Linked DNA regions of Homo sapiens: region 1 is linked to region 2. Evidence: fine-mapped expression QTL. Tissue or cell type: whole blood. Region 2 holds a variant in brackets; the other region holds the start of a gene. All regions are shown on one strand. Distances are from middle to middle.

Region 1 (2,500 bases), 160 kb before region 2:
GTATATGTACAGAATACAATACATTATCAAAACTTGATGGGAAAAAAAGACAATTCAGCAAAGGGACTGCAACATTTTAAAAAGCCAGGAGAAAAAAGAAGGAAAAATACTTCTAGGGGAAAGGAATCAGGCCTGAAAATTGATGTCTGTGTGGTTTCTAAGGAAACAAACAAGATTCACCTTCCAGATTATTCCTAAAGAATTCCAGGTGCTGTTCTCATTTACTCTAACAATTTGGCAAGGTAAGTTATCTATTTTGACCCATAAGGAAACACACTACTCGCATCCTTCTCTGGTTATCTCAGATACGGCTCACACGTTAAGTTTCAGCCAACTTCCAATTAAATTAAGCTTATTTTTACTCGGGTTCTTCCAAAGGGACCCAAAAGATATACATTCCCTGAGCACCTTAATCTTTGAAAAACAGTTTGCTATAGACCAAATTCAATCCCAAATTCACCTCTACCTCAAGTTAATAAAGAAGGTATTTATACTGGCGATTGAACTTAGTTCTGTAACTGCAAAATGTCAAAGATAAAGACCATCTCACGAGTTATGAGGATTAAGTTCAAAGTGCCAAATAAGCGCCACACATAAGGCTGAGTGACCAAAGGCGTGCATTGCACTTAGCCCAGTACTTGGTACAAAATGCACACTTAATAAATGCCAACTTATACTGTGACTACTATTCGAAAGAATCTGAATAGAGCTGGGCAAAGGAGAGCACCCAGCTTCCCACGCTCCATCCTCACATACCCACCCAAAATATAATAAGTGGGCTTCCCCGCATCCCTAGCGCCTGCGCACCCTCCCTGCCGTAGGGCTTCGCCCTCGGTATCCTGACCCCTTCCTGATATCACCCGGTCCCATCCTCACCAGCCTCCCCGCCACCAAGCAGCCAAACATGGCGACGGCAGCTCCGTTCAGCCGGCAGTGACCTGAAGCCGGCGACTAGGAGTCCTGGGGCTACTGCCCTAGTCGAGACTAAGAACCTTCCAGAATTTGCGGGAGGGTGTCTGCCCCTCCACTACATAGTGACTGGGCCAGCGGCAAGAATGCCTCTGCCCCCGCGAACTCTGACCTTCTCTTCCTAAGCAGCCCACTGCTCAGGCAACAAGTACTTCCGGGGCTTACACCCGGTTTTCCCCACTAAGGAAGAAAGGCGGGCCAGCGCCAGTACAAGACTACAAGTCCCAGAACAAGTCCCAGAGGGCACCGCGCCAGTTTCCGGGAAGGTAAGCCTGGAGGCTTTGCACACTGGGATCGGTAGTCCGGGTGTTTTATAGCCACAAAATCTGTGGATCCTTCATTTCCATGTACAATCCTGGGAAGAGATGCTTCTAACGTTTCTGTGACATCTGAGAGATTAACGGTGCACTTTTACAATAATCACGTCACTAGATCTTTACAAAAACCCTATGAGGTAAGTATTATAATCCAAATTTTATAGGAGTGATCAGCCTCAAATCTTTACACAGCAGTAAATGTTGGAGGCTGAATTCAAGTCCTAATCCAAATCCGGGTTTCTTTCTGCTACACAGTGTCTCAGAAGTATTAATCTTTAACCAATTGTTTTGTACTTGTCTACAATTTATAGTAGTTCTTTCCAGCTTCACTTAGTTCTCCCATTCATTTGCTGTACAATTGTGGACGAGTTGTAGATGTCTTTGTGCTTCAGTGCCCCTCCTTTGCAAAAGACAAATAATGAGCCTATTGCCTAGGGTTGCTGTGAGGATTAAATGAGCTAATATGTATAAAACACTTAAAACAGTGCTTGGCTGTGCTTAATTAGTGGGAGTTTTATTGTAAAAATGTCTATTTTTTTTCTATGTGGATCTGCAGAAAAGTTTCATAGGAAATACAAAACAATAGCCAAAAAAAAAAAAAAAAATACTGGCATTAAGTACCGATTGCCACCAATACTTATTCTCCCTTTCACAGCTCCAATTCCTTTTCTTCTTGAATAGGATAGTAAAGGGTCTCTGTCCAATTTGAAATATCTGAGCTTGGCCACCAGCCGTAAAGCAGGTCTGTCTTCCCAGTTCTCAGTTTATATATGGGGGATCAGTGTTTGGAACAGTCCTCTGGCCTCCACTGTGGATCCCTAAACTGATCACCTATCTTATCACCGATACTCCTTTGAGATAGCTGTGCCAAAGGTGAAGAGGTAGGAAAGGATCTACCAATGTTTCCAACTTACTATCTAAAAAGTCCTAGAACCTTCAGAATAAAAAGGCCATTCATATGAAGACCACTTCATAAATTAAGGCACCCACACTACCTGGGTTCAGAGCCCATCTCTGCCATTTATTAGTTACATAATCTCAGGCAAGTTAACCTAACACTCCCATACCTCCTTTTCCCCATCTTTAAAATGAAGTAATAGTAGTATCTACCTCATAAAGTTGTTTTGAGGGTTCTTACACGTAAAGTACTCAATAGTGGCCAGAATGTAGCTTACTCAATAAATGTTAATATTTAGCATTATTGCCTTTCCTAA
Region 2 (2,762 bases):
AGCCTCAGGTTATGCTTCCTGGTGCTGGAGTGCTTCATGGGGCTGGAGTAACTCGGCCCTAATTCCCTCATCCATCTTTTTTCTTATTGCTAAAGCAGTTCCAGAAGGCAAATATGGAGATCTGGGACCCACAAGCCTAAAATGATAAAGAAAAGAAGAGAACCAGGGGTGGCGTCAAGATTAGAAGCTGGTTTGCTGCCAGAGCTTTGCTTCCTTTAATGCACTCGCCCACACTCTCCCTGTTTTTCAAAGACCAACTGCAGGCTTGACTCCTGCAGCCATGTCGGTGCCACTAGGCCTTGGTGCCGAATAAATAAAACTAGAGGGAAAAAATACAGTTGTCTGAGGACTGGGGATGGCTGGGAGCATCCAGCTTAGTGTCAAACTGAGGAAATGGTAGGATGGGAATCGATATGTAATCGAGAGAACAGATCTCCCGTGGACACAGACACCACCCTGATCTGAGCCTCATTTCAGTACTGCAGGCCTGGGTAGAGTCAGCTGACCCCAAAAGCACTGTGCTGGAGAATAGAGAATGACTGTCATTCTATGATGCCTTCTGAATATCGCTGCATAGACAGCATGCACTCTTTATAACAGCAGAAAGAGACATAAAAGAGACAAGGGTGGGGAGAGCAAATGTAAAAATATGAGAAATTATGCCCCTCGTCTTTAATTTTTATTATTATTATTTTTTTGAGACAGAGTCTTGCTCTGTTGCCCAGGCAGTAGTGCAGTGGCATGATTATGGCTCACTGCAGCCTCAAACTCCTGGGCTCCAAAGATCCTCCTGCTTCAGCTTTCTACATAGCTAGGACTACAAGCGTGTGCTACCACACCCAGTTAAATTTTTTTTTGTTTTTCCATTTTTTGTAGAGACGAGGTCTCACTACATTCCCCAGGCTGGTTTTGAACTTCTGGCCTCAAGCGATCCTCCTTGGCCTTTTAAAGCACTGGGATTACAGGCATGAGTGACCACACCAGGCCTTTTTTTTGAGACAAGGTGTGGCTCTGTTGCCCAGGCTGGAGTGCAGTGGTGCGATCTCGGCTCACTGCAACCTCCGCCTCCTGGGTTCAAACCATCCTCCCACCTCAGCCTCCCAAGTAGCTGGGATTATAGGCATACACCACCATGCCTGGCTAATTTTTGTATTTTTGATAGAGATAGGGTTTTCCCATGTTGCCCAGGCTGCTCTCCAACTCCTGGGCTCAAGTGATCCTCCTGCCTTGGCCTCCCCAAGTGCT[G/A]GGATTACAGGCATGAGCCACTGTATCCAGCCCTCCGGCCTTCATTTTTAAAAAGAATAAGTTTTATTTTTCTTTCTAATTACAAAAACAACATATACTCATGGTAGACAATCTAAGAAATACAGAGACCTAAAATAAATAATCAACTGTAATCCCACTAACCACTGTTGCTATTTGATGAATATTTGAATATTTACTGAATGCTGACTGTCTGAGGCACTCTAACAATCCTAAGGCTCAGGTAGTAAAATTATTCCCCTTTAATTAATGAAAGAACTGAGATTCAGCGAGGTTAAGATTTGCCTAAAAACACACAGCTGATACGTGGTAAAGCCTGGATTTGAACCTGGTTCTGTATCCCAATTTTCTCACAATATTTTATTTGTCTTGATCTACCAAGATTTGTCTTGGTATTTGTCTTGATACCAGAGATGATGGTACATCATCAAACAATCCCAATTTTCAAATGGGAAATACTTCAAAGCAAAAAGATACTGCATGAAGATGTTTCAAAAATGCGTTTTGTCTTTCAGGTCTTGTCACAGTTATTGCAATTTTGTAAGATCATTCATTGCGAAAGTGGTGTTTTGATTCTTTGCCCTTTCCGGCAACAAAAACAGAAAGCGACTTCCCTTCTATCATTTGGCCTGAGGCTTCTTTCTGCTTCTGCCCAAGGCAGACTGTGGTTAGCACTCAGTGCTTAACCTCTTCCTCCTGCATGTCCCTCTGAAGTAATACATTTTTGTTTTGACACTTTGGATATACTGGACCCTAAAAATCAAGCCAATAAGGAGCAGCCCAGAAAGGAAGAGAGTGCCATAGTCTCACCTGTGTTTTAGGGAGGTTAGTTTTGTAGCCGTGCAAGGGCTGGCTTGATTAGGAGATCTTAGACTCAGAGAAATTGGTTATCACTTTTAAAAAATGAACAAATGACATGGGTAACAACCTTACCCCATTCATAAGCTTCACCATCTCTCACCACATCTCTGTGTCCAGCCCCATTCCTGAATTCCTCATCTGACCCTCATTTCATCCTGACATTAAGGAGATTATCTACACAGATTATTTGATGATTTTTTAAAAGCTGAAAATTTAATAATTTATTCTTTACAGTAATGAATTAAGTCTGAACACTGAAATATCACTGGCACTAAAACTACCTCAGTAAAACATCATGTACCCAATACCCAATCCTGACTACCCAGTTTTGTTCCCCAGCCAGTCTAGCCCTGACAGTTTTAGACACTTCCTGCACATTCTCCACCATTAACCAGCTCTAGCTCCTCCTGGTAACTCTACAGTGGCTCTCAAGATAGAATTGTCATTAAATGTGGAAACTTTGGTTATCTTTATTTTTATAATTATTTATTGATTGATTTATTTTTTGAGACAGAATCTCACTCTTGTCATCCAGTCTAGAGTGCAGTGGCACAATCTTGGCTCACTGCAACGTCTATCTCTGGGTTCAAGCAATTCTCCTGCCTCAGCCTCCCCAGTAGCTGGGTTTACAGGCATGT

The links. PIP is the estimated chance that this variant, and not a neighbour inherited with it, causes the effect.
Region 1: it holds the start of HIKESHI, and the variant in region 2 is fine-mapped to the expression of HIKESHI in whole blood (TOPMed, PIP 0.92).

What each region holds. Positions count from the first base shown.
Region 1 is chr11:86,300,855-86,303,354 of GRCh38, reverse strand. HIKESHI (heat shock protein nuclear import factor hikeshi) reads right to left here and starts at 1,115. Exons shown (of 5, transcript NM_016401.4): 1 at 877-1,115. The coding sequence starts at 906.
Region 2 is chr11:86,138,247-86,141,008 of GRCh38, reverse strand. No RefSeq gene overlaps it. Among named protein-coding and RNA genes, the nearest start is that of LINC02695, 54 kb to the left of the region's middle. The variant G/A (reference allele first, on the strand shown) is at 1,246.